4 linked regions of the Homo sapiens genome follow. The protein of the gene in region 1 binds, or shares a complex with, the protein of each later gene. Each region holds a gene or a part of one and is shown on either strand. Other genes may lie near its edges. The genes, in order: FLNA, CFTR, FBLIM1 and ITGB2.

Region 1 (7,000 bases):
AGGCAGGGGAGGCAGTTGGCCCAAGCCCGAGTAGCCCCGGGCCTGCCTCAGGCGCTCCCAGAGTGCCCAGCGCTGCTGCTACAGGGACAGTCTCTGGGCCTCAGGCATCTTAACTGCTATGGCCCAAAAGGGCTGCCTGCACCTGGCAGAGTCCAGAATGGAGACTAAAACATCCCACACTTCCCACATGACAACAGGCGCGGCCAGCCAGCTTGGCACCCATCCTCAGCCCCAGGGCCTGGCCAGCACTAGGAGGAGCTCACCGGGGTGATCTCAAGCTTCTATCCTATACCTGCCCCATGAGAATATTACAGGTGGGGAAACTGAGGCACAGAAGGCTTTGGTGACGTGCTCAAAGTTAGCAGCAAGTGCACGTCTGGGGAAGCCTGTGCCTGTCACCACCATCCTAAGGTAGTCACAACCTTAGCAAACCAAAGACAGGGGCCCTGTCCTTCCCTGCCCTCCTTGGTGCAGCTCCGCAGGGAGATCAGACACCAGCCACCCGCAGCCCACACTCCAGCCGCCCAGGCCCCCCTGCCTCCCCTGCCTGTGCCCGGAGCTCACCGTGATCTGGACAGCCAGCAGGCCCTCCCCGGCGTCCTTTGCATCGATGGTGAACTCCACGGGCAGGCTGGCAGGCACGCCAGTGGTGTTGAGCCCGGGGCCACTGGCCTTCACCTTGCTGGCATCATGAGTAGGCAGCACCTTGACCTTGAAGGGGCTGTGAGGGATTGGTGTTGTGAGCAGTCAGACAGGTTCTCAGCATCCAGCCTGGGCCACTCCCCACAGGCAGCAGGCCCTGCCTCTTACCTCCGGGGTACCTCTTCATCTCCATACAGTACTGAGATGCTGTAGGGCCCTTCTCGGCTGGGCACATAATTGACGGTCTGGGTGCCATCAGCGTTGTCTACCACGTCCACTGGCTCCACCAGGCCTGGCCCCAGCCCCAGGGACAGAGCATCAGCTAGTCTCCTGGGCCTCCATTCCTACCCCACCACACTGGACGGCCAGGACCCAGCCCCAGGCCTAGACCTCGCTTTATCCTCATCCACCCGACCCTGGGAATGGCCTTGACCCCCTCTGGCACGAAAGACACCCATCTGGGTGCCAGCTGGGACCCTTGCCTGCCTGCCTTCCTGCCACATCTGCTCAGTGACCAGTCCCATCTGCTCTACCTCCTCCAAGTCCCCCACCTGGCTGCACTGTCACCTGAGGCTCTTCCAAAAACACCTACACACTTGCACCACCTCTGCACTCTGGTCCTCACTTTGGGCCTCCAGTTTCCTTTCCCGGCCCTCAAACAGGACACTGCCCTCCTGACCCCTGGCTCCAGGCATGCAAACACTCACCTTTGGGCCCTTGCACTTTGACCTGCAATGGGGCCACACCAGCCTTGCTTGTGTCCACCTGGAAGGACTGAGGGAGGTTGGCACGAACCATGCCTGGGCTCAGGCCGGGCCCAGAGCACTTGACCTTGGACGCATCTGTCACATCATGCACAGGGACCTTGAAAGGACTGCCTGAGGGTTGGGGCAAAGGGATGGCGGCTGTATGAGACAGGGTGGGGACGAGCAGACAGTCCCAGCCCTGCCCTGGCCGCCACCTCCTCACCTGGCACTTGATGGCCACCATAGGTGACGTTGAGGCTGTAGGTGCCAGCCTCATAAGGGATGTACTCGACCGAGCAGCTGCCGTCCTTGTTATCCATGCAGGACATCTTGGCCTCGGAGGGGCCCTCTACAGCCAGGCCCAGGCCGCCCGTGCCAGCTCCCCTGGTCCAAACAGACAGCCGGTCATTCCTGGGGTTCCCAGGCCCACCAGCCACACGGGCTCCTGGGGGCTCCCTTACCTGGTCTCCACAGTGAACTTGTTGGGCTTGTTGGTGGTGCCACTTTGGATGCCTGGCCCGTGGACACGCACCCGGGAGGGGTCGCAGCCCTCGGTCACGGGCACCTGGAAGGGGCTGCTGGGCACGGGACTGCCGTCATAGGTCACGTCCACGGAGTGCAGTCCTGGAGGAGTGCAGGCCAGGTCAGGAGGAGCCCGGGCCACCCCACCCACCCCGTCTGCCAGCCTGTGGGAGTCCCCAGCACGCACCCTCCTCGTAAGGCGTGTACTCCACTTTGTACATGCCATCGCCACGGTCCTGAACGTAGGTCTCCGTCAGGTTGCCTGAGGGGTTGGCCACACGGGCCTTGACGTGCGGCCCTCCGGTCTGTGTCAGAGCCCGGGCGTCCACACTGAACTCAGTGGTGGCCTCACGGAAGACACCTGCAAAGGCACAGAGAGGAGGCTTGGGGCTCGGGGGTTCTGGTCCCTGTCCCCCGTCACATACCCCACGGCAGGGCAACTCACCCTGGCCCTCAATACCAGGCCCATAGCACTGGACACCGGAAGTGTCCACCGCAGGTTCCACCTGCAGCTTGCTGGGGAAGTTGGGCACGGGCTGGCCGCCGTACTTGATGGTGACGGTGTAGGCCCCGGGGCAGAGGGGAATGTAGGTAATGGTGTGCGTGCCATCACCGTGGTCCTGGATGTACACCTCGGCCGGAAGCCCCGCCTCCGAGCAGATCTCAATGGTCAGCTCCGCGCTGCCCGCGCTCGAGCAGTCCACTTGGAATTGGCCCACCTCCCCAGCGGTGGCCCGCTCCAGCCCGGGGCCTGAGCACTTGACTTTGGATGCGTCAAAGCAGGGAACCACGTGGGCCTTGAATGGGGAGCCAGGGATGTGGGTGTCAGCGAAGAGGATGTTGATGTTGTAGTCCCCGGGCTCGGTGGGCACGTAGGACACGGAACATGTGCCATCCCCATTGTCCAAGCACTCGAGCTGCGCCTCACAGGGGCCCTCCACCGTCAGGCCCAGGCCACCTGTGCCGGCGCCCTTGGTGTCGATGGTGAAGCGGGCGGGGGAGCCCGCACTGCCTCCCTGCAGCCCCGGCCCAAACGCCTTCACCTGAGGGAAGAAGGGGTCAGGAGCCAAGGCCACACTATGCCCCGATCCCAGACCTCCTGCTTGACTTTCCACCTGCCTCCCCTTGCCCTGGCTTCCTGCCCTCACCAAACAGGGACACGGGCGGGCCCAGGCTGCCTGCCAGATGGGCCATCCATCAGTCATAAGGACAAAAAGGAGGGCAGGGCGCGGTCACTCACGCCTGTAATCTCAGCCCTTTGGGAGGCCAAGGTGGGTGGATCACCTGAGGTCAGGAGTTTGAGAACAGCCTGGCCAACATGGTGAAATCTCGTCTCTACTAAAATTACCAAAATTAGCTGGGCATGGTGGCGGGCACCTGTAATCCCAGCTACTTGGGAGGCTGAGGCAGGAGTATTGCTTGAAGCCAGGAGGCGGAGGGTGCCGTGAGCCAATATCGCGCCACTGCACTCCAGCCTGGGCGACAGAGTGAGACTCTTTCTCAAAAAAAAAAAAAAAAAAAAAAAAAAAAAAAAAGAAAGAAAAAAAAAAAAAAGAAATTCTTCAACCCTGATGACTTTTTGTGGGTTTCTATTTCCCTCCTCCCCTTTACTCTCACTTAAACAGGGTCAAGGTTGACAGTCTGTCTCAGGAAAAAAAAAAAAAAAAAAGGATTTAGGGCAGGTCTGGAGAAGATGGGGTACCTTTGGGGCCCTCAGAGAGCACAGTGGGTTCTACCCTTAGGGCCTCCCATACCCCAATTACCTTGCTAGGCTTGGTGGGGGCCACAGCTTCCAGAGGAAAGGGGCTGCCAGGCACGGGCACGCCGTCATAGGTCACCTCCACCTCATAGGGCCCTTCCTCACGGGGCAGGAAGCGCACCACACTGTTGTCAGCCCCCAGGCCTGGCTCCACCTTGCAGGGCACCGCTGCACCCGAGGGGCCCACAATCTTGGATGCCACTTTGCCTTGACCACCAGCACCCTTTGATTTGACTGTGAACTCCTGGTCTTTGCCAACGTCCACCTCTGTGGAAACGATGAAAGGAAGGAGAGAGACATGACACCCAGCTCAGCCAATCCCTGGATGTGACAAAGGCCTTTGCGACAAGGGCCCCAACTACTTACTCTCTCCCAGGCCAGACACCTTGATCTTGCTGAGGTCCAGGCTTGGAGATACTGCCACTGAGAAAGGGCTCTTAGGGATGGGATCCCCTCCATAAGTGACATTGACGCCTACTGGACCCTGGGAAGGGTGCAGAAGGGAAGGGGGTATTTAGAGACACCAGAATTGCTCCCCAACCCCCTCCTGGACCTCCATGCCTGTCCTCTCCCAGGTAAGGAATGAGAGTGGGCAGAAAGTCCCTCGGAGCTGTCCCCTAGGCTGCTGCATGAGGAGGCTGGGGACTCGGTGACTGTAGTGGAGGGTGTGGCTACCTGCTGGACAGGCGTGTACTTGACTGTGTAGGTGTTGTCATGGTGGTCGATGATGTCCACATCTCGCACTGCATCCCCCTTGGTGAGTCCTGAGAACTGGACGTCCAGCTTGCCTTTGCCAGCAGCTTTGGCATTTACTGTGAAGTGGGTGGGCTTGCCAAGCTCGACACCTGAGGAACACACAGGGACCATGTAGGGGCACCCTGCCCCAAGCCCTCCTACCCTTGATGCCCCGCAACCTGCCATGGGGTACCTGTCCTCACCAGTGCGACTGAGGCCAGGGCCCTCGGCCTTCACCTTACTGGCGTCATGAGAGGGCTCCACCTTGACTCGGATGGGGCTGGTGGGCGTGGCCTGCAGGCAGTGGGAGGAGAAGGCCTTAGAGGAGGGCAGACGTCATCCGCAATGACATCTTAGCGGCCAGGAGCGCAGCACCCACCTGGTCAGCAAAGAGGACCATAATGGTGTAGCTGCCAGCCCCCCGGGGCGTGTACTTGACCGTGAAGGTGTCATTGTCATTGCGGATGATGTCGAAGTCGATGTCAGCTTCGGCGGGGCCTACCACTCCAGGGGCACACTTGATGCCGATGCTGACGTCCCCTGCGGCGGGGAGAGGAGCGGAGGCTGAGACCTCGCAGGGACACCCCAGCCACCTGCCCTCCCACCCACAGCCAGGCCTTACCCTGGCCAGCCTCGGCGCAGTCCACAGTGAAGTAGGTGGGCTCGTGGGCCTTGAGCCCTGTCTTGGCTACTCCGGGGCCGTATACTTTGACCTTGTTGGGGTGGCTGCCAGCTCCCACATTCACCTGCAGGGCACAGGGGCAAGGGCAAGGGCATGAGCAGCCTGGAGGAGACTCAGAAGCTCCCTCAGCTACACTGGCAGGCACACAAAATGGTCCAGCTGCCTTGGGAAGAGTCTGGCAGTTCCTCAGTTGACCACAGAGGGACTGTGTGATGCTCCGGTTCACTCCGAGGCAACTACCCAAGAGAAATGAAAGCAAATGTCCACGCAAACACCTGGACTCACTGTTAACAGCACTGTTCATGATCACCAAAGGCAAGCTCATCCTCAATATCTGTTAGCAAGTGAACGGAAAAATGGAATGTGGTCTGGCCACACAATGGAGTATTATGCGGCCATAAAAATAAATGAAGCGGCCGGACGTGGTGGCTCATGCCTGTAATCCCAGCACTTTGGAAGGCCAAGGTGGGCGGACCACCTGGGGTCAGGCGGTTGAGACCAGTCTGACCAACATGGAGAAACCCCGTCTCTACTAAAAATACAAAATTAGCTGGGAATGGTGGCGTATGCCTGCAATCCCAGCTACTCAGGAGGCTGAGGCAGGAGAGAATTGCTTGAATCTGGCAGGCAGAGGTTGCAGTGAGCTGAGATCACGTCATTGCACTCCAGCCTGGCAATAAGAGCAAAACTCCGGCTCAAAAAAAAAAAACCAGGATGGGCGCGGTGGCTCATGCCTGTCATCCCAGCACTTTGGGAGGCCGAGGTGGGCAGATCACAAGGTCAGGAGATCGACACCATCCTGGCTAACACAGTGAAACCTTGTCTCTACTAAAAATACAAAAAATTAGCCGGGGGGGTGGCGGGCGCCTGTAGTCCCAGCTACCCGGGAGGCTGAGGCAAGACAATGGTGTGAACCTGGGAGAAAGAGCCTGCAGTGAGCCGAGATCGCGCCATTGCACTCCAGCCTGGGCGACAGTGTGAGACTCCATCTCAAATAAATAAATAAATAAACAAAATAATTATAAAGGAACAAAGTGCCAAGACATGCCAAACATGAACGAAAACACGGAAAACTTCGTGGTGAGCGAAAGAAGCCAGACACAAAAGGCCACATGGCACACAGTTCCATCTATAGAACATGTCCAGGATAGGCAAAGCCACAGCAGAAAGCAGGTTAGTGGTCACCAGGAGCTGTGGGACAGGGGAGTCAGGATGGTGTGCCACAACCACTTGAAATGGACGAATCGTGTGCTACGTGAATGCTATCGAGATGGACTAAAGGCCGGTGGAGGTTGGCTCACCCTGAAGGGGCTGTTGGGGATGCTGACGCCTCCCCAGGACACCATGGCTGTGTGCTTCACCGGCTTCCTGGGCACGTAGGAGCAGCTGTAAGTGCCATTGCCGTTGTCCTTGACCAACGCCTCCACAGGGCAGCCTTCATTGTCCTGTCAGGCAGATAGGAGCAGGTGGCCTGCTGGTCAGTGCCCAGGCCTGGGTGCCCACACCTGCCCTGCCCCCAACACCCGTGGGTGCTCTACCTGGACTTGGACCCGAAGTGGGGCCTTGCCACCGTGCTTGGCATCCACTGTGAACTCTGCTGGCTTGTTGACGGCCACACCTGTCTTCTCCAATCCAGGCCCACGTGCCTTCACCTAGCGGGAGACCACCCAGCTGTCAGGGGGCCAGGTCCAGGCTGCCAGAGCTACAACCCAGGCAGGGTGGCCAGGGACACAGAGTGCCATCCCCACCAGACCCCAAGCAGGAGCAGCAGGGCGAGACTTAGGCCATCACAGCCTGCTCTTTACCCTGTCTGGGTGGAAGTCCTGGGGCGCGTCACGGATGTCAGCCATGAAGGGGCTGAGGCGGATGTCTTCGCTGTTGCACAGCACGTGAACGGCATACTCGCCAGCCTCC
Region 2 (7,030 bases), on another chromosome or scaffold:
ACCAAAGAGTAAAATATTGTTAGGATCTAAGGTGGAAATTCAGCAAAGAATCACATAGTCTAAGTCTCGAGTTTAACAGTAAGATAATTTGAGATACTTTTGTAATTATTAAACACAAAGTAATGAGAGATTTTAAAACAAACAAATACACCTGAATTTATATATCAGAATAGGTATGGTGGTTCAAAATAGCTATCTAATAAAAACCACACTCCTATTCTAAACATTTGCCTTTGATCAAAATAATTTTGGGTCTCTTATTATGAAATTGCCTTTCTAAATAATACATAAATTTCTTCTCATAAGTATATATTAGCCACATTATTTTATTGTTATTGTTTTATATTCATAGCTTGCTTTAGATTAAAAATTATATTACCCAGACTGGTCTCTTGGACTTGCTTCCAAGTGACTTTTGACTGTATCACAAAATCAAATTCACTCTGAAAATATAAAGATTTTTCATCATAATTTCCTTTGTTAACAGCCAAGTGCTACCTAATTTTAGGTGTTTTCATTAAAAAAAAATGCATTGCAAACTTTAAAGACAATTCTTTTGTTTGTTTGTTTTTAAAAGACAGAGTCTCACTCTGTTGCCCAGGCTAGAGTGCAGTGACACAATCATAACTCACTGCAACCTCCACCTCCTGGGCTCAAGTGAGCCTTCCATCTTGCCTCACGAGTAGCTGGGTCTTCAGGTGTACAGGTGTGTACCACCATGCCTGGCTAACTTTTTTTTTTTTTAAGTTATATAGAGACAGTATCTCACTATGTTGCCCAGGCTGCTCTTGGAGCTCCTGGCCTCAAGTTATCCTCCCACTCAGTCTCCCAAAGTGCTGGGATTACAGGCGTAAGCCACCTCACCCTGTCAGCCTAAAGACAGTGCTTAATGAAGAGAAATATAAGTGCTTTGAGCAATGGAAGTATAATTAAAATTATACTATGAAAGATTTATAAAGATGACCATTTTGAATGGGACCACACTTATTTGGTTATATAAATTATGATACACTATTAAAAATTCATCATGATGATTTTGTATTTACATTTTATTTACATGTTTGCAATTTGTGAGGAAAGCTAAAATTATGGCTAAGCCATAAATATTTTTGCAGTTTGTTGAGGGTGTTTGTAAAAGTGTTGCCAAGGAAGACCAGTTGGCTACCCAAACAAGGGTTTAGTCTAGGTCTGATCAATACATACACATTATCTCAGGTTTGTCTATCAGAAAAACCTTAGGTTATCCAAATCAAAATAAAATAGATGCATAAAACAAAGGCCAATATGTGTTGAACAATTATATTGTGATATACAACTGCCAAGCATTCCCGATTACCATGACTCCATTTAGTCAGTCCATGGGCAAATGCCATCAATGAGGACAGCCCAGGGTTTCCATATTCTCTCTTGGCTTTACATCCTATAGGAATTGGAGGGGCCCACCTCTGGGATAGGAGCCCTTCTGTCTTGAACAATGTTGTCTGAACACTAACAAATGTTGACTTTCTACACCAGTCCCTCAATAGTCTTTTCTATTTATCCTTTTGCTGACCATGTTTTGTTATTACACAGTTGAGATTTTTCAGCTGGGAATCTGTGTTAATTTTGTATTAATTTTGATTAGCTTAACTCTCAGAGTTCTAAAAGTACCTCCTGTACCTGATATATGACAAAAATTATAATTACATTTATTTATATATAAAATATCTTTGTATATGTAAAATATCTTTGTATATATAATTATATAATTGTTTCTTTTAATTTTGCAAATTTTAAAAAGTTCTCCTTTGTTTTGAAGTTTATTCCTATAGTTTTTTATATGCTAGTTAAATTATTAATCACTTGATTCAAGTAATATTCTTATATACTTATAAGGAATAGTGTAGTTTTAATATTTAATTCCTTGCTAAAGAGAGAAGTGGAATCTATTTTTCTTAGCTACTTCATCAATATTTTATGTTTGATGTGACAGTCAAAATATCCCTCAGAGCTAACTGTTACACTAGGGAAATCACGGTTTTCCAGTTTTCCATTTATGTGTTATGGGAGGGAGTGGAACTTAGTGTAATAATATTCAATACATAAATGTTAACACTTGTTTAAAGGTCCTTGAGTGAGTACTGCTATAAAATGCATTATTATTGCTAGTGTCATTTCACAAGAGCCTATAATTTCAGTGTGATAGAGCTACAATATAAGTATAGTATTGCAAAACCATCAGGAAGGGTGTTAACTATTTAGCATGCAGTTATGTGTTGGTTGTCAAAACGTTAAAAACATCTCTGACTCAGCAGCAATTTTGGCAATTTTGATCCTGAGGCATCTGTGTAGGGCATCTTCCTGGAGAAAAACCTCTGAGATGCAATGAGGTCAAAAGGGGAAAACAGACTATGATAAAGATCAAGTTGTTTGGAGATCTTGTAGAAAGATTAATTTACAAATATGTCAAGTGCATTATCATGGAGGAAAACATTGCTATTTCTGTTGGTTCTCTTCAGAGCTCTAGAATCAATTTACCACATAGTTGTTTCAGTGTGAAATTAGCATTACAGAGTGGCTTTACGGCTTTACTGTAGGGCATTGTGTCAGCAAAGAGCTTAGGCTTCTTTTAGCAAGAAGCTTGTAAAAATTTAATTTACTCTTAGATTGCTTGATGTAGAGAATTACATTCCTACAGAGCTCTGAAAAATCTTTTTTCAGAGTTTTTCACAGCTGTATTCAAGTTGCAAGGCTTGTCAACTTTGCTATTTTTCTGTGCAGCTCTGTTAACTTATTATTATCTTTTGACATAAATTATGATTCCAAATTGTAAAGCTCTGGATGTCAGGGCCTTTTCTAATTTGTTTAGTATGATATTCAGACCATTTCAAGACTCTTCCGTGGAACAATTTAATAAAGATTTTTTTGTGATGTTAATGAGTTCATGGTGATCAACCCTAGAGACCTGTGTCTATTGTAGATCGATGACATTCAACAGTCCTGCAGTGCTGGCATCATTTTGATAAAAAGGGGTCAAAGCAAGTGGGACTGTGGGCAGATTTTTAATGCTTAGAACAATTATTCCATCGAAGTTTTCTTGTGTCCCTTCTGCCTTAGCCTTTGTAGGATAGCATGCTTGCTAATTTCTTGCTCATGGGGTAAGGAAATGAAGATTTTTGCTAGGTCCGTAGGATTATTAGGACTACTCAGGCCTGAAGCTATGCCTGGATATAGCCAGAAAACTCTCCCATAGCTTGCTCCAAGGAGCTGAGATACAGCAGTACTTCCTTTGTAGGTCATGATTCTGGGTAACCTGGAAGATGACCTCATTCATATTCTGTATTCTATGTGAGACGTTAAGAAGGTAGAGGTGGCCAAGAAGGAAATTGTTGCTGCCTTTATGGAACAAATTATCTGAAACCCAGCTTTCTCGAGGGCTTCATTGAAGTACTCAACTGGGGCACTTAACCCAGTCTAAGGCTGGTCAAGGAAGGCTTGCTGGGGGAAGTGTCTTTTGTATTCACACCTAAAGGAGGTTATTCAATTAGAATTATCCAAAGAGGGTAGGGATGGGCTAGGAAAAATTTAAACAGGTAGTGTGGAGGACTGACAGGATAAGTAAGCATGGCACCTTCAAAATATCCTGAGAAGTTCCCTATGACGGGAACATAAAATATGTGACAGAGATTTGTGGGAGATGGGTCTGGAAACTCTAGCAGGGGCCAGATCGTAAGGGGGCTTTGTAGGCTTTGTAGGCTTTGTTTGGGCTTTATCATACTGGAAGTGAAAAGCCATGGCTTTTAAACAGGAGAGGGACATAATCAGTTCATATACTGTTGCAGTTTTGTAAAAGAAAAGATGAGCTGAAAGAGTGGCCATGGTGGAGGTGGGTGGGGTGGGGGGGAGGGGGCGGGGAGAGAGAGAGAGAGAGAGAGATTTGAAAGACATTTAGGAGGTAAAATCAACTGGTTTGGTAATCAATTAGTAGTTGAAGGTGAAGGAAAGAGAAGAGTTAAGGATAACATCTATATTTGTTGATTTGGATAATAGAGGGGACAGTGGTGCTGCTTATTGAATGAGAAAATTTAATCGGAGAAGAAGGCATGGAGCAGGAGTGCAGACCTATGTGACTCTACTTCTCTCAAAACCAGAAACGGAAATGATGTATATGGCTCAGGGTTAGGTAATATGGTTATTTGAAAATGTATTAAAGTGATTTAGAGCTTAGTCTTAGGTAAGAGATATAAGATGTCTGAGGTGACAGTTTTATAAATATGTAGAGTGCCCACTTGTTTGGCCTTATTGTGGCATAGTGTGACCTGAGAGTGTTAGGAAGAAGCAGCTGAGTTCTAGGGACAGTACTGGTTAAATTCTACTTAGAAATTATACTTAGAACTCTCCTATATAACCTGCTAACTGATGTCTGAACCTCCTGATAACTTCACTCCTTTAGGCAGTGCTTTTCACATCACGGGACACAACATATGAGAGATCATAGAAATTCAATGTGGTATGAAAATCTGCTTGGGACTTCAGATATTGTCTCCAGTGATTGAATAAAAATAGGAGCTCACCTACTATGATGAGGTTTCTGTGTGTGTTAAAAGAAGGTTTTCATTACTTTTGAAAAGGTTATGTATCCTTGTTTTATGTTAAAACTTTGAGCTTTGTTAAATATGCAGAGTTCTCTTTCTTAGCATGGACTACAGAGGTGCAACTACCTCCTACCTGACTTCACATCTACTCCCAAATGCCTAGTGAAGGCTTAATAATTTCAAAAAGGGACTCTAGAATTTCATTTGATACCAGTCAGACAAATGTGTGAAAATTAAGCATAATAGGCAGAATCCCAGGGGTACTGACAGCTGTATTAAGAGGTGATTCAAGGGCTAAACCTTAGAGTCCAGCATTGGTTATGGGTGTGACAAGAAAATGAAGCCTATGTTGGCTGGGATTAGCAACCACAGTTCTAGAGGAAGCAAGGTGGAGAAACTATATAGGGGGCTCCCTTTGTACGTTTTATTTATTTTAAACATCTCTATAAACTCTAGAAATTAAAACAACAATACCAACACAAAAGCATCACTTTTTCGACCAAAGACCATTGCTATACTTTTTTGTGTAAAGGGCTAGATAGTAAATATTTTCAGCTTTGTGGGCCACATAAGTCTCTGCAATAGACAATATGCAAACAAATAAGCATGGCTGTGTTTCAATTAAACTTTATTATGAACATTAAAATTTGAATTTCATATAACTTTTACATGTTGCAAAATATTCTTTATTTAAATTCTATTGCAATATGCTTTAAAAGATACAGTTTTTAGTCTTTCTTAGTTTAAAATAAAATCTAGAAAAAATTTTAAGTCTTCTATAACTTTTTTTCGGTAACTGAATAATTTTAAAAGTAAGTGAAACATTTAGACATGCAAAATGGACTTTTCAGAAGAAGAAAATGGTAGCTTAACAGTTATTAGATTATTGTCCAGAATAATTTTTGACTTATAAGTCTCTGTTGACCATTTCATTGCCTCTTTTTTTGGAATATGCATCTTTTAATGTGTCCTTCAAGGCAAAGGCTCTATCTTATCTATCTTGTGTCTTGCATTTTCCCAGGGCAATGTTTTTCACAATTTTTTTAAAAAACAATACTGTAATCAATTTTCAAATAAAATTTTCCATGGGACCGCAGTGTATACAAATAGCAGTGACAATAAAAGATAATAACTCTCCCATAAATACAAAGAAACAGTTAACCTAGTGCTCTAAAGTAAAGGCTACAGTGATTTTGTATAACATTTATATGTAATTTTCTTGATCCTACATGGTTGTGTTTTTCACAGTGTTATGTTTCTGAAATCGAGATGCCTTTTATAATTGATGTCAAAAGAAACTTGTCAGCCACAAGGCCCAGGAATAAGTTGTAATATGGGAACTTAGCAATACATAAAGGTATATATACTCCTGTGACCTCAGCTGAATTATTTGCATTGGTTGCATCCCACAAGGTTGACTCTTAAATAAATTTAGTTTGTTGCTTGAAATTTCTTGGGATAAATTACTTTGTGATGTAGTTTTGAAAAAAAAACAGGTAATATTTAGTCTGAAGTTTGTCTGACATACTAAGCAATGTAATTAAAGTAGAAGTCGCCTAAGCTCAGCACTTTATTATGCCTTGAAATTATACTGCCTGTCCTACAGGTGAAGGTGTTATGAATGCAGTTTGTCACTGTAACTCTATTCATAGCTCTGAAAGGCTGAGAGTGACTCAGAAGAATATTTTTGCTCTGAATATGAAGAACGCTTAGACTAAAACTTTAATTACGATGCTGAAGAAGAAAGTGGTAGGTGATTGCATGAATAAGTATGTAATATTGTTAATTTCTAAAAACTGTGTATAGTTAATGTAGTGCTTCTTTTTGGAAAGGCTATTGTTAAATTGATGGTAAATTCTATAACCAATATCACCTTAAAGCAAGTACGCATGATAAAGTATTATAAAACCATGATAATATCATATGTGGCTTATTATTGTTCCCTGAGTGTTGTACAACTCTGTTATGCTGTGATGAAACCTCATGCAAACAGGTATGTCAAAGATATGATGGGCTGTTAACTGAGCTTGGCCCACATATGGTGTAGTGACATGCTCACTAATGCAGTGCAGAGATAACCAATAACAGATCATAACAGGTTTAAATATGTGCAAGGAGATGTCAGCAGAAGCTTTCCTACATAGTGAATACTAAACAAGCCTGACAGCCCAGGATCATGTTCGGATCAATCTAGTGTGCTAAAATTAACATATAGTCCTACATTTGAGAATGTGTGATTTTCTTGGTTCCTGTCTATAAAATAATATTTTAAAATACATACATTTCAAATCAGAAGTTGGTGAATTCACTGAAATATTTCTAGAGAACACTAGGTATTGGGGCTCATAGTGTGAAAACCACTGACTTAATTCTTCCCCCATCTTGGTTGTTCCTGATCTTCCCTTGTGTCCCCATTCCAGCCATTTGTATCCTTAGAAAATGATCTCATATTCTAC
Region 3 (7,030 bases), on another chromosome or scaffold:
GCTAGGTTTCCCTCTCAGTTTATTAGCTTCCACCATACCCTTTTCCTCCAGCCGAATTTCTACTGGGTGGTCAATCATGCCTATCCAATGACGTCTCCATAGAAGGCCCAAGAGGACAGGGTTCGGGAGCTTTCAGGTGGCTGAACATGTGGGGGTTCCTGGAGGGTGGCACACTTGGGGAGGGAGGGCATGTAAGCTCCTTGCCCCTTCCCCTAGACCTCATCCTAGGCATCTCTTCACGTGTCTGTCTGTATCGCTGTAATATCCTTTTCTTTTTTTTTTTTTTTGAGACAGAGTCTCACTCTGTCACCCAGGCTGGAGTGCAGTGGTGCGATCTCGGCTCACTGCAAACTCCACCTCCTGGGTTCAAGTGATTCTTCTGCCTCAGCCTCCCAAGTAGCTGGGACTACAGGCACACACCACCATGCTCAGCTAATTTTTGTATTTTTTGTAGAGATGGGGTTTTACCGTATTGGCCAGGCTGGCCTCAAACTCCTGACCTCATGATCTGCCCACCTTGGCCTCCAAAAGTGCTGGGATTACAGGTGTGAGCCACTGCCCCCAGCACTGTAATATTCTTTTTTTTTTTTTTTTTTTTTTGAGACGGAGTCTCACACTCTGTTGCCCAGGCTGGAGTGCAGTGGCGTGATCTCGGCTCACTGCAAGCTCTGCCTCCCAGGTTCACGCCATTCTCCTGCCTCAGCCTCCCGAGTAGCTGGGACTACAGGCGCCCGCCACCATGCCTGGCTAATTTTTTTTGTATTTTTAGTAGAGACGGGGTTTCACCATGTTAGCCAGGATGATCTCGATCTCCTGACCTCGTGATCCACCCGCCTCGGCCTCCCAAAGTGCTGGGATTACAGGCGTGAGCCACCGCGCCCAGCCCAGCCCTGTAATATTCTTTATAATAAACCAGTAGACAGGAAACTCTGGCCCAGCACCCAGGACTCAAGCTCAGCTCCTTCACCCTGCTTGGGTCTCGCCCTGTCCCTGCACCCCACCCAGTGCACAAACCCTTCTCGTACCTGTAGAAGTCGTCCAGGCAGTACACCTCGTTCTGGCTGCCCAGGGCAAAGCTCTCATCCCCAATGCACCGGGCGCAGGTCACACACGTGAAGCAGGAGGGGTGGAAGGCCTGGCCCAGGGCCCTGATGATGTGGTCCCGGACCACCTCGCCACACTTGCCGCACCTCTCCAGTGTGTCCTAGGACAGAGGCCACTGCCAGAACCATCCACGACACACCCACCCCAACCCACGAGGGTCGTCTTCTTCTGAGAGGCTGCCCTCAGGGGCCCAGGAACTGGGAAGTACAGGAGAGGCCTGCAGACAACCTGTAACTATCGCCCAAAACCTCCACCATTGCTTATAACAAATTGAGCTTAGCCTTGCATCCTTGGCTTACAGCAAGGAATACTGCCCTGATGCCCTGATGCTATGGCTGCATTTCTTGTTACTGGGATATGTTTATGGCCAGGGTCCACAGAGCTATAGGAGAAACCTCGCTTAAACCTCAGGGTCAGGAAAAGGAATTCTCAGGAGAATTGGGTGCTTTATCATACAGACAAGAAGACTTGAAATTCTTTCCCTTTTCCATTTGGCCACTTGGAAGCTCAGAGCCAAATTCCACATTTCACGTTTAGAAACCATTATAGGGCTTTTTTGTTGTTATTTGGTTCTTGTTTTGTTTTGGGACAGAGTCTCGCTCTGTTACTGAGGCTGGAGTGCAGTGCCCCAATCTCAGCTCACTGCATCCTCTACTTGAGGTTCAAGTGATTCTCATGCCTCAGCCTCCTGAGTAGCTGGGACTACAGGTGTGCGCCACCACGCCCGGCTAATTTTTTGTAGACACGGTGTTTCACCATGTTGGCCAGGCTGGTTTCGAACTCCTGACCTCAAGTGATCAACCCACGTTAGCTTCCCAAAGTGCTGGGATTACAGGCGTGAGCCACCGTGTCTGGCTTCCTCACACATTTTGGGTAGTAACATTCCCTTTGATCTCGTCTCACTTTCTATTTTGATTTTCCTTCTGTTTGGATGTCTTTATTTTACATATCGTAGTATTATTGCAGTCTTTAAAAAATTGTTTTATTGTGGGAAGAACACTTAACATGAGATCTACCTTTTTTTTTTTTTTTTTTTCTGAGACGGAGTTTTGCTCTTGTCAATCAGGCTGAAGTGCAGTGGCGCAATCTTGGCTCACCACAACCTCGTTTCCCGGGTTAAAGCAATTCTCCTGCCTCAGCCTCCCGAGTAGGTGGGATTACAGGCATGCGCCACCACATCCGGCTAATTTTTTGTATTTTTAGTAGAGACGGGGTTTCTCCATGTTGGTCAGGCTGGTCTCGAACTCCTGACCTCAGGTGATCTGCCTGCCTCAGCCTCCCAAAGTGCTGGGATTACAGGCGTGAGCCACCGTGCCCAGGCTTTTTCTTTTTTTTGAGATGGAGTCTTGCTCTGTTGCGCAGGCTGGAGTGCAGTGGTGTGATCTTGACTCACTGCAGCCTCTGCCTCCCGGGTTCAAGTGATTCTCCTGCCTCAGCCTCCCAAGTAGCTGGGATTACAGGCACGCACCATGCCTGGCTAGTTTTTGTATTTTTAGTAGAGACAGGGTTTTTCCATTTTGGTCAGGCTGGTCTCGAACTCCTAACCTCAGGTGATCCACCTGCCTCGGCCTGGCATGAGCCACGGCACCTGGCCAGTTAACATAATTTTATATGATGCTTTAAGAAGAAATGCGCCAGGCAAGGTGGCTTATGCCTGTAATCCCTGGACTTTGGGAGGCTGAGGCAGGCAGATCTCCTGAGGTCAGGAGTTCCAGACAAGCCTGGCCAACATGGTGAAACCCCCGTCTCTACTAAAAATACAAAAAATAGCCGGGCGTGGTGGTGGGCAACTGTAATCCCAGCTACTTGAGAGGCTGAGGCGGGAGAATCACGTGGAATTTTTCAGTGCACGCATGTTATTGTGGTCTATAGGTATATATGCATTCTCTTTAAAAACATATTTTAATAAAAAAATAGCTATATTAAAATAGAGATGGAGTCTTGCTATGTTGCCCAGGCTCGTCTTGAACTTCTGACCTCAAGTAATCCTCCCACCTCAGCCTCCCAAAGTGCTGAGATTGCAGGTGTGAGCCACCGCGCCTGGCTGGTATACATGCATTCATAGAAGCTGCCTCAAATTCCTTCTGGAATGAGGAGCAATGACAAAGAGATTCCCGAGGCAGGGCAGTGGGCTTCCCTCTAGCCTTTCCACCTTTTCTCCTGGACATGCTGTCTCTCCTTCCTGGCTGTGCTCCTGTGCATTTTACCTTGACCTCACCTGGACACGTGTGGGGGCATCTCCCACTCCCCCCTCCCTCTCATGGGCATGGCCCTTCTCTCCCCAGCACACTGCTCAAGTCTTCCTCCTGGCTGCTTCCTGCTTCCAGCTGGACACCCCTCCTCCCCTGGTGTCTCACCCCTGAGGAACACTCCCCCATGATGTTGATGGGGTCACAGGGACACGGCAGGGAGGGCCTGGCTCCTCTCTCTTCCCACAGTGCCTCACTGGTGGTGAGCCTGGGATTGGATTGTTTGGATTCTTCTGGAGAGTCTCAGCTCCAAATACTCTAACCCTTCAAATCAGCCGTTTTCAAACTTCTATATGCATGAGAATCACTTGAGACACTGATTCAAAATGCTGATTTCCAGGTGTTCCTCATTCATAAGCACAAAGAGTGGCCTACACATCCCCAGGGGATGCGGCTGTGGGTGGTCACCACACTCAACATGCCACCACAAACCATCCAAGAGTTAGAAATTCCAGTGTGCTGGCATCCCAGCTGGCTCTCCCAGATTGCACTTGGTACCCGGAAGCAACACAGATTCCCGTGAGATCAAACATTGGAACCCTGTGGCTCTACTCTAGGGGAGATAGTGGCAAGACTGATGGCAGGCTCCAGAGCCAGATGGGTGTGGAGTAGAATCCCAGCTCCTTGGCCATCTCGTGTGACCTCGTGTGGTAGCTAAGAGATGCCCCCAAAGATATCCAGTCCTTATCTCTGGACCCCGAATGTTACCTTGCCCGGCAAAAGAGGCTTTCAGATGGGATGAGCTAAGGATCTTAAGATGGGGGAGATTATCCTGATTATCCAGGTGGGTCCTAAATGCCATCGCGTGTCCCTGTAACTTGACACAGAGGTGACAATAGGGCCGCTGAAGTGGGATGCTACACTGCTGGCTTTGAAGCAGAGGAAGGAGTCAAGGAGAATGCAGCTTCATAAACTGCAAAAGGGGCCAGGTGCGGTGGCTCACACCTGTAATCCCAGCACTTTGTGAGGCCGAGGGGGTGGATTCCTTGAGGTCAGGAGTTTGAGACCAGCCTGGCCAAAGTGGTGAAATCCCATCTCTACTAAAAATACAAAAATTAGTTGGGCATGGTGGCAGGCACCTGTAGTCCCAGCTACTCAGGAGGCTGAGACATGGGAATTGCTTCAACCCGGGAAGCAGAGGTTGCAGTGATCTGAGATTGTACGACTGCACTCCAGCTGGGGTGACAGAATGAGCCTCCATCTTAAAAAAAAAAAAAAACAAAAAAAAACAGGCTGGGCGCAGTGGCTCATGCCTGTAATCCCAGCACTTTGGGAGGTCGAGGTGGGTGGCTCACGAGGTCAGGAGTTCAAGACCAGCCTGGCCAAGATGGTGAAACCCCATCTCTACCAAAAATACAAAAATTAGCCGGGTGTGGTGTCAGGTGCCTGTAATCCCAGCTACTCGGGAGGCTGAGGCAGGAGAATCCCTTGAACCTGGGTGGCCGAGGTTGCAGTGAGCTGACATCGTGCCACTGCACTCCAGCCTGGGCGATAGAGTGAGACTCCGTCCCCCACCGCAAAAAAAAAGAAGAAGAAGAAGAAAAAAAGAAATTGCAAAAGGCAGAGATGTGGGTTCTCCCTCAAGCCTCCAGACAGCACACCACCTTGGTTTTGGCCCAGTGAAGCTGATTTTGGACTTTTGATCTCCCGAACTGGGACAGAATAAACGTGTACTGCTGGAAGCCACGAAGGTTGTGGTGATCTCTTACAGGCAGCCCTAGGAAACCAATCGCCTTCACTGGGCTCCTTCTTTCTGAGCCTCAGTTTCCTCATCTGTGAAAGGGGTCAATAGTGCCTACTTCCCAGGACTGTGTGGGGAATGAAATGGTGCAACATATTCTAAGTGCTCAGCTCACTGCCTGGCACCCAGAGGTCTGCTGCAGGGGTTACCTGGTAGCAGGGTTCGCAGAGGGGTCGCCCATCCTTCTGGTAGAAGCTCTGCCCAGCCAGCTGGCGGCGGCAGGTGCGGCACGTGAAGCACTGGGCATGGTACTGCCTCTTCATGGCCTCCACAGCCAGCTCTCGGGGGGACACGGTCTTGTGGCAGAAGGCACAGATGTCTGGGGTAGGGGAGACACAGGCCATCACCAGCCCAGCCTGTGAGGACTGTACCCAGGCACCACCCAGAACATGCTCAGGATACCCGAGGCTCTGTCTTAAACCCTGCAAATTCCTCAAATGACAAATACAGAGGGTCATGAGGAGCATTAAAAAGGAATCTGAGTCAGGCATGGTGGCTCACACCTGTAATGCCAGCACTTTGGGAGGCCAAGGTGAGCGGATCACTTGAGGACAGGAGTTCAAGACCAGCCTGGCCAACATGGTGAAACCCCATCTCTACTAAAAATACAAAAATTAGCCGGGCATAGTGGCATGCCCCCGTAGTCCCAGCTACTCATGGGGCTGAGGCAGGAGAATCACTTGAACCTAGGAGGCAGAGGTTATAGTGAGCCGAGACTGTGCCATTGCACTCCAGCATGGGTAACAGAGTGAGGCTCTGTTTCAGGAAAAACAATAAAAATTAAAAAAAATAAAGAGCCCGGCGCGGTGGCTCACACCTGTAATCTCAGCACTTTGGGATGCCGAGGTGGGCGGATCACAAGGTCAAGAGATCGAGACCATCTGGCCAACATGGTGAAACCCTGTCTCTACTAAAAATACAAAAATTAGCTGGGCGTGGTAGCGGGCGCCTGTAGTCCCAGTACTCAGGAGACTGAGGCAGGAGACTCGCTTAAACCCAGGAGGTGGAGGTTGCAATGAGCCAAGATCGCGCCACTGCACTCTAGCCTGGTGACAGAGCAAGACTCTGTCTAAAAAAATAAAAATAAAAATAAATAACATAAATAAATAAGGAATTCTGGACAGCAGTTTCAGGACAAAGGGATTGTTGGCTGCCTTGACCTCCCAAAGTGCTGGGATTACAGGCATGAACCACTACACCCAGCCAGGAGCCACTTTGTTTATTTATTTTATTTTATTTTTTTATTTTTTTGAGACGGAAGCTCACTCTGTCACCCAGGCTGGAGAGCAGTGGCGCAATCTCAGCTCACTGCAACCTCCGCCTCCTGGGTTCAAGAGATTCTCCTGCCTCAGCCTCCCGAGTAGCTGGGATTACAGGCACACACCACCACACCCAGCTAACTTTCGTATTTTTAGTAGAGACAGCATTTCACCATGTTGGCCAGGCGGATCTCGAACTCCTGACCTCAGGTGATCCACCTGCCTCAGCCTCCCAAAATGCTGGGATTATAGGCGTGAGCCACCACGCTCAGCCAGGAGCCACTTTATATTCTGATGTGTGACCAGCTCTGAGATGTACGAAGGAAAGAAAGTGAACAGCAGAAGAGCCTAGTTTGCTACTTATGGAAAAATGGGGGGAGGGAGCAGGTGGACACATATTTGTATTTGCTCGTATGTGCATAGTGTCTTTGGCAGGATACATGAGAGCTCAATGACAGAGGACACCCATCTGGAAGGAAACCGGGTGGTAGGGGGATGGGGCAGGTTGCAGGCTTCTCACTGTGTCCCCACTCATGCTGTTTATTTTGCACTGTGTGAGGGCATTAGGTGTTCAGAAAATAAAATAGTGAGAAAAAATTCAAGACATTTTTGCTATCATAGCAAACTGCAGACTAACATTTTAAATAGAATTTAGGTATAAAGGGAAAAAGGCTAAA
Region 4 (7,030 bases), on another chromosome or scaffold:
TCTGTTCCACTCGTTGAATGGTCCAGAACGCACCCCCCAACACCAAGTCTGTGCCGCAGGACGGCCGTTGTCCAGCAGGGACCCACGGGCTCACCCGGGCCGCCGCAGACCTGGCCGTTGTAGCGCTCACAGTTGATGGTGTCACACTCGCAGTACTGCCCGTATATCAGCTTGCCGGGGACGTCGCTGGTGTGGCACAGGCACTGCCCGCAGACACAGTCCCCCAGCCCTGAGCAGATGATGGAGTTGTTGTCCTTCCGGCAGCTTCCTTCCAGCTCCTGGCTGCTCCGGCCCTGTGTCTGGCACTCACAGTTTTTCCCAATGTAGCCAGTGTCACACCTGGGGACAGGAGGGGCCCCAAGGTCAGGCTCCCCCCAGTGATGTGGGACAAGGGACAGCCGCCCTGTCCTCCAGGCCCCTTGCCCTTGGTGGAGAACACCCCTATGGCACATTTTGCTTTCCTCGAGGCCTACTGAGCACTTGCCACGGACTAAATGTGCTCAAAACGTGCAGGGGCCCCGCGTTCCCTCCCCAGGATGTCCCGAGGGGAAAGCAGACACCTGGCCTTGGCCTGCGCATGCAGTGGCTCGGCAGGCTCACTGTGGAGCTGTGTTGCAGCCATGCACATGGCCTGTGCTGCGATACCGGTGCTCTGTGAGTGGCTGGTGTCTGCTCCTGCGTGCCCCACATGGTGGCCAGTGGGGACTCGGCACTGCCTCCTGCCACAGCCCCGCCCTCCCTCCTGCGTTCGTGCACTGACAGGCCAGGTTGTGGGAGAATGCAGGGACAAGGGGTTTTTACAGATGTGGAAGCTGGCATCAAGCCGCTGGCAGGCAGGAGCCACACACACCCTGAGGCATCCTCAGAGACGGCACTGCCACGGGCTCTCCTGCTCCCCAGAGGAGGAAGCTGCAGGACCGAGTGTCTGAGTACCTGTGGCAGGGCACCCCCCGACACCTGCCAAGTGTTCCGACTGAGTCACCCCTACAGTCCCGTGAAGAGGCCGCCCCAGGGCTGCACACCCAGGACAGTGGGCGGGGTGGCCACTGAGGCACGAGGACAGCAACAGAGACCACCAAGACCACAGAGACCATCATTGTCCTGAGATATGGGAGGAGGCTGGGGGCAGCAGGGACCTGAAGGTGAGGAAGGGCACTGCCACCAGGACGTGGATTGGCACTGCGGTCAGGACAGGGGAGGAGGTGACCAGAGCAAAGGGGGCAGAGTCCTGGGAGGTCAGCCTAGCAGCTCTGGCCAGGCAAGCAAGGAAAGGGGGACAGCCATCCAGCCCCCGGGCAGGCCGCCTGGCTGAGTGCCATGTGAACCTCCCCACTGGGTCCACCTGTCCCCCACTTCTCCCTGAGGTGGGGTGCCCACGCCTGGCAGGGGGTGTGCACGCCCAAGAGGTGGCCTATGGGGCCCAGGCTCCCAGAAGCCATCACCTGTCCCAGGAGGCTCTCTAGCCACCCATGCCCCAGGGCTGCCAGCCTGATGGCCTTGGGTCCCCAAGGTCAGAGAGAAGCCAGCTCCTAGGGTCAAGGAAGGTCGGGCAGAGAAAGTGACCCACTCAAGGCCATGGGCACGCCCAGCGGGGACTCCTTGTGCCCCTGAGATGGGCCTCCATCCTCTGGTGAGGGGGTCCTCCTGCCCACAAGTCCCCTGCCTTGGGTCCTCCATGGCCAGAGAGTGTAGAGTACAGGCTGGCATTGCTGGTGCCCTGGCTCAGGAGCACGGGTGAGGGCTTGCCGAGGGGTTCTGGGTTCCAATCCCAAATCTCCCCACCTCCTGCAGAAGGGGGCCCCCAGGATGCCTGCTCCGTGGGGTGGGGGAAGGGATGGAGCCACCTGCACCCACCTCACCTGCCGACACCTGCCCTGTGGGGTGGGGCTCGGGGATGGTTCAACAGGGACCTGCGCCCGCCTCACCTGCAGATGCCGCACTCCAAGAAGCCCTTGCCATGGCAGAGGCTGCGGTCTCTGCTCTGGTCCCGGCACCGGCACTCACACTGGGGAAGAACCTGCACGGTCACTATGTCCGTGAAGCCCAGCGCCCGGATGACAAACGACTGCTCCTGGATGCACTCTGTGGCCGTGACCTTCACCTGGAAGGTGATCTGCAGGGCAGTGCTGGGCTCAGGTGGGGACCCTCGGTGGCCAGGGTGGCAGCCCAGCTCCCAACCCTCACCTCCTGGCCTCTGCAGGGGTCCTGGGGGGTTCAGCGTGGGGAGGAAGGGGTGACCAGGAGCAGGAAGAGCTGATGCTCAGATCCGAGAGCCAAAGTCAGCCGGCAAGGAGGTGCTCTGCCCGCACTCCCGCACTGGCCGGCACCAGGATCTCCCCGGCCACACATCAGCAGAGACATGTGACACGCAGACAGCAAATCAGGAGAAGCTGAGCACACTCCCACTCAGACCACCCAACATGAGGGAAACGTTCTGGTGAGAATCCATGGGACAGCTGGGCGCCGCGGCTCACGCCTGTAATCCCAGCACTGTGGGAGGCCGAGGCGGGTAGATCATCTGAGGGCAAGAGTTTGAGACCAGCCTGGCCAACATGGCGAAACTCTGTCTCTACTAAAAATACAAAAATTAGCCGAGCGTGGTGGCACACGCCTGTAGTCCCAGCTACTCAGGAGGCTGAGTCAGGAGAATCACTTGGATTGTAGTGAGCCAAGATCGCACCAGTGCACTCCAGCCTGGGCGACAGAGCGAAACTCCATCTCAAAAAAAAAAAAAAAAAAAAAAATCCACAGGCAACATTTACCAAGAAACATGTTTGAAGGAATTCCAAAGTCATATTAAGAAAATGCAATGAAAGCAAGTGTCTTGCTGAATATTATTTCACAGCTAGCAAAAAAAAAAACAAAAAACAAAAAACAAAAAGAAACAACAAATGATTGGATAATAAACTTAAACCTGAAAGATTAGAGAAGGAACTCAGTGTCCATTCCTAACCACCTGTGTGGCCCATGCCTTAATGTTTCTGTCAAAAAAACAGAATGAAACACGCAGAAAATCATGACAACTAACCCTACCCAGGTTTGCCGTTTGCGCCTGTTCTGTGTGTCCGGCGTCTGCCCCCAGGGGGCGCAGCCATCACTCCATCCCTCAGTCTGCAGTGGCCTGACCCAGGGATTTGGGCTCCAGGTTGATGAGTAGGACTCTTGGGGGCCAAGGCGTGTGTGAAGAACCCTCCCAGCACCCTCTCACTGAGAAGCACCCTCTCGGCACCCTCTCACTGACGTTCCTGACATCAGCTTCACAAGGAAAGCGTCTGGCCTCGGCAGAGAGGATGTGAAGGAAAGAAACAGGGTCCTTCCAGTGGATGCTGCCTGCTCCCAGACAGCCTCTGATGCCTGTGTGCCCCTCCCTGCCCCCGTCAGAGTGCTGGGATGGGGACCCTGGCTCCTTCTGGCTGTCCCCAGGACCCCTCAGTGTGCTGGGATGGGGACCCTGGCTCCTTCTGGCTGTCCCCAGAGCCCCTCAGCAAGCTGGGATGGGGACCCTTGTGGCCAGGCTCACCGGGACATTGATCTGCACGCCATCACAGTCACCTCTGGGCTGGTTCCTGTGCGTCACTCCATTGCTGCAGAAGGAGTCGTAGGTGACTTTCAGGGTGTCGGGGAGGGCGTTGTGATCCAGGAAGACCCTGGAGGAGAGTTTCTGCGGGCAGAGAGCGGTTACTCTTGGGGGCGAGTGTTTCTGTTGTCCTGGCCCTGCCTGGCCCAGCGGTTTAGACCCGTCTCCACTTCTCCTCTCAGTGCAAGTCCCCAGTGTCAGCTAATGACACAGAGGAGAGCACAGCAGGATGTGCTGAGGATGGCAGGGCTGCCAGGGCCACAGTCCTGCCCTCGAGACAGCCTGACCACAGGGACTAGCATGGAGCCAGGGTGTGAGCCTCAGGGGTGGGAGCTTCTGCTGCTCCTCAGCCTTGAGTCCCCAGGACCTAGCACAGGGCAGGAGCTGCATAAATTGTTCAAGCGATAAGAGAGATGGGGAGAAACAGAGAGAGGCAGAGACAGACAGAGATGGGCAGAGCCAGAGCCAGAGACAGAGAGATGGAGAGAAACAGAGAGAGGCAGAGACAGAGACAGACAGAGATGGGGCAGAGACAGAGAGAGACAGACAGAGAGAGACAGAGAAAGAGAGACAAAGACTGAGAGACAGACGGAAATTGAGAGGAGGCAGAGGGACAGGTTCATAGGGGCATCGGGTGAATGGCCAGGGCAGTGGCGTCACCTGCATCCTCTGTGTAAGGACAGAAACACCTCGGGCAGTGGCTGGCACCCAGGAGGGTCTGCTCTGGGGGTTTGGGGCTCACGGGAGGCTACGAGAAGCAAATGGCACCTCCTCCACGGGCCTTCAGTTTAATTCAATGACCCAACGTTTGTCGGAGGCGCTAACGTGCTGAGCTCCCTCAAGCCAGCAGGACCTTTGGCCTAGAAGGATCCAGGCCAGAATTCTGAGAACATCTCTCACCTGGGGGTAGATTTCCAGAGCAGTCGGGACCTCTGGTGCCTGGGGCCCTGAATGGCACCTAGTGCGCACCTATGCCTACCTATGCCCACCAGGGCCATGGGCTCCCCAGGGGAGCAGCCCAGGGTGCAGCTCGATGGGCCGTGCACCAGGGAGAAATTCAGGGGTTAAGGGCTTCTCTGGAGCTTGCCCAGGACAGGTGAACAGAGCAAGAGGAATTCCACCCCCCAGGGTGTCTTCCCAGGGCCCAAGTCCACTGTGGGGGTTTCCTGTGGCCTCCTCCTGCCCCAGCTGCACTGTTTGCCACCAGAGCTGTCCACCTCCCTTCTCCATAGAGACCCGCAGAGAAGAGTCTGGAATGAAGAGTCCGGAGCTCAGGTTTCAGGGAGCATCGCCCACAACATCAACGAGAGAGGACCCAGAGCTCCCCGTGGAAGTGCCGGGCCAGGGTGTCCTGGAGGCCTGAGGGCAGGTCGGGAGGCTGCAGCTGGCCCACGGGGCAGGGGCTTTCCTCCCAGACCACCCTCCTGCTGACCTGCAGCAGGAGCTGACCTGCAGTGGGGAGATTGCTGGCCACCCCATGGGTCCCAGCTGAGTGGTGCGGGAGACTCACATTGTAAGCATTCTTAATGAGATGGACCACATTGCTGGAGTCCTCAGACAGCTCCCCCACGGCTGACTTGGGGATGATCTCGGTGAGTTTCTGTTGGGCAAGAAGACCAGACATGGCACGGCTAGGACCTGTGCCACGGCATCTCCACGCACTGGGCTCACCCCAGGGGCTTCTGCACCTGCAAAATGGCTGGGACGGTCCTCAACGCAGTTTTGCACTTGGTCCCCAGAGTGTGTGGTCAGTGATGTGTGGTAAGAGGTTCTTGGGGGTAAAAAGCCCTGAGCTGCCCAGGGGCCACGCCTGGAATACCAGTACTCGGGAGGCCGATGTGGGAAGATTGCCTGAGCCCAGGAGTTCAGGACCAGCCTGGGCAACATAAGAAGACCCCATCTCTACAAAAAGTACAAATATTAGAGTGGTGTGGCGTCACATGCCTGTAGTACCAGATACTCGGGAGGCTGAGGCAGGAGGATCACTTAAACCCAGGAGGTGGAGGTTGCAGTGAGCTGAGATCGCACCACTGCACTCCAGCCTGGGCGACAGAGCAAGACCTTGTCTCAAAAAAACAAAACAAAACAAAAAAAACCCAGGCCAGGCATGATGGCTCACGCCTGTGATCCCAGCACTTTGGGAGGCCAAAGTGGGTGGATCACTGAGGTCAGGAGTTTGAGACCAGCCTGGCCAACATGGTGAAACCCCGTCTCTACTAAAAATACAAAAATTAGCTGGGCGTGGTGGTGGGCACCTGTAAGCCCAGCTACTCAGGAGACTGAGGCAGGAGAACCCAGGAGGCGGAGGTCGCAATGAGCTGAGATCACACCATGGCACTCCAGCCTGGGCAACAAGAGCAAAACTCTGTCTCAATAAAATAAAATGAAATGAAATGAAATGAAATGAAATGAAATAAAAAAATAAATAAAATAAAATAAAATAAATAAAAAATAAAAAAAAAATTACTGTTGCATCATGAGGATAAGAAAAGAAAGCAAAGCCCTGAGCTGCAGCATTGTCCAGGCCTGCCCGTGTGAGTCCTCCTGCCTGCGGTGTGAGTGATCCCGCCTGCGGTGTGAGTGCTCCCGCCTGCGGTGTGAGTGATCCCGCCTGCAGTGTGAGTGATCCTGCCTGCGGTGTGACTGCTCCCGCCTGTGGTGTGAGTACTCCTGCCTGTGGTGTGAGTGATCCTGCCTGGTGGATTTCAAGCTCGCAATATCACTGGGTTGGGAGGACGTGCATGGTGGCCAGTGTTGGCCAGAATTTCCACCACACAGGTAGGGAATTCCTACCACCACACAGATGGTAGGCGGAAGTAGCCCCACGAGGGTGGATCACAGTAAAATCACCAGGAAGCCATCGGCTCTTGGCACTCTACTGAGTTTCCATGGGTGTTAAACAGCCCGGTGACATCGGTTCTGGCCGGCCAGATGCACAGGGGCGCAGCCAGCCTCCCCCATGCTCACACATGCTCAGCTTCTTTCATGGAAGATTGCGGCATCATTTCACCTTCCAGGAACACGGAGCAGATGGTCGGGTCACCTCCCCGCCCAAACCCTCCCATGACTGCCCTGCATGGGCCCAGTCCCTTCCATGGAGCTCCTGGGGCCGGTCACAGCCTGGCCACCACCCTCCTCTGCGCCCTCCGCCCACCGCCCACTTCCATCCGTCCCAGTCTGGGGCCATCCCTGTCTTGGGAGAGCTGGGCCCTCCCACATCCTGTCCTGCTGAGCCTGCTGTGCGCTTGGTGCAGAAACACACTCGGAGGGGGCGTGGCACGTGTGTCCACACTCGCTGCCTGTTGCCTTGACCACCCCCGAAGGTGACCAGGAAAGGCTGAGGAAGGCTTGTGTGCCCCAAGGCTCAGCAGTAGGCATGGGGTGCACTCTACCTGCCTCCAGTGCCTGGCCCTGGTGCCACACCATCGCCTGGAGTCTGGCTGCCATGACAAA

The links.
Region 2: the proteins of FLNA (region 1) and CFTR are in contact, whole or in part, in a crystal structure (PDB 3ISW), measured with the Homo sapiens proteins. Residues at the interface, in NP_001104026.1 of Homo sapiens: Thr2263, Gly2267, Ala2268, Gly2269, Gly2270, Leu2271, Ala2272, Ile2273, Ala2274, Val2275, Glu2276, Gly2277, Pro2278, Ser2279, Lys2280, Ala2281, Ile2283, Ser2284, Phe2285, Asp2287, Phe2311; in NP_000483.3 of Homo sapiens: Ser10, Val11, Val12, Ser13, Lys14, Leu15, Phe16, Phe17, Ser18, Trp19, Thr20.
Region 3: the proteins of FLNA (region 1) and FBLIM1 are in contact, whole or in part, in a crystal structure (PDB 4P3W), measured with the Homo sapiens proteins. Residues at the interface, in NP_001104026.1 of Homo sapiens: Met2207, Gly2208, Thr2263, Arg2264, Gly2267, Ala2268, Gly2269, Gly2270, Leu2271, Ala2272, Ile2273, Ala2274, Val2275, Glu2276, Gly2277, Pro2278, Ser2279, Lys2280, Ala2281, Ile2283, Phe2285, Cys2293, Glu2306, Phe2311; in NP_001337080.1 of Homo sapiens: Lys7, Arg8, Val9, Ala10, Ser11, Ser12, Val13, Phe14, Ile15, Thr16, Leu17, Ala18, Pro19, Pro20.
Region 4: the proteins of FLNA (region 1) and ITGB2 are in contact, whole or in part, in a crystal structure (PDB 2JF1), measured with the Homo sapiens proteins. Residues at the interface, in NP_001104026.1 of Homo sapiens: Val2241, Thr2263, Ala2266, Gly2267, Ala2268, Gly2269, Gly2270, Leu2271, Ala2272, Ile2273, Ala2274, Val2275, Glu2276, Gly2277, Pro2278, Ser2279, Lys2280, Ala2281, Ile2283, Phe2285, Phe2311; in NP_000202.3 of Homo sapiens: Leu753, Phe754, Lys755, Ser756, Ala757, Thr758, Thr759, Thr760, Val761, Met762, Asn763.

The regions. Positions count from the first base shown.
Region 1 is NC_000023.11:154,357,635-154,364,634, forward strand, and holds part of FLNA (filamin-A), read right to left. Parts: coding exon 6,892-7,000; intron 6,739-6,891; coding exon 6,625-6,738; intron 6,532-6,624; coding exon 6,388-6,531; intron 5,151-6,387; coding exon 5,027-5,150; intron 4,945-5,026; coding exon 4,784-4,944; intron 4,699-4,783; coding exon 4,608-4,698; intron 4,515-4,607; coding exon 4,345-4,514; intron 4,154-4,344; coding exon 4,036-4,153; intron 3,937-4,035; coding exon 3,674-3,936; intron 2,954-3,673; coding exon 2,356-2,953; intron 2,272-2,355; coding exon 2,098-2,271; intron 2,013-2,097; coding exon 1,850-2,012; intron 1,773-1,849; coding exon 1,612-1,772; intron 1,521-1,611; coding exon 1,350-1,520; intron 935-1,349; coding exon 811-934; intron 722-810; coding exon 565-721; intron 1-564. UniProt on the Homo sapiens protein: Promotes orthogonal branching of actin filaments and links actin filaments to membrane glycoproteins. Anchors various transmembrane proteins to the actin cytoskeleton and serves as a scaffold for a wide range of cytoplasmic signaling proteins.
Region 2 is NC_000007.14:117,483,004-117,490,033, forward strand, and holds part of CFTR (cystic fibrosis transmembrane conductance regulator), read left to right. Parts: intron 1-7,030. UniProt on the Homo sapiens protein: Epithelial ion channel that plays an important role in the regulation of epithelial ion and water transport and fluid homeostasis. Mediates the transport of chloride ions across the cell membrane.
Region 3 is NC_000001.11:15,768,792-15,775,821, reverse strand, and holds part of FBLIM1 (filamin-binding LIM protein 1), read right to left. Parts: intron 5,414-7,030; coding exon 5,244-5,413; intron 1,205-5,243; coding exon 1,026-1,204; coding exon of another isoform or gene 791-1,025; exon of another isoform or gene 601-790; intron 1-600. UniProt on the Homo sapiens protein: Serves as an anchoring site for cell-ECM adhesion proteins and filamin-containing actin filaments. Is implicated in cell shape modulation (spreading) and motility.
Region 4 is NC_000021.9:44,889,884-44,896,913, forward strand, and holds part of ITGB2 (integrin beta-2 isoform 1 precursor), read right to left. Parts: intron 5,178-7,030; coding exon 5,088-5,177; intron 3,662-5,087; coding exon 3,521-3,661; intron 2,114-3,520; coding exon 1,926-2,113; intron 340-1,925; coding exon 95-339; intron 1-94.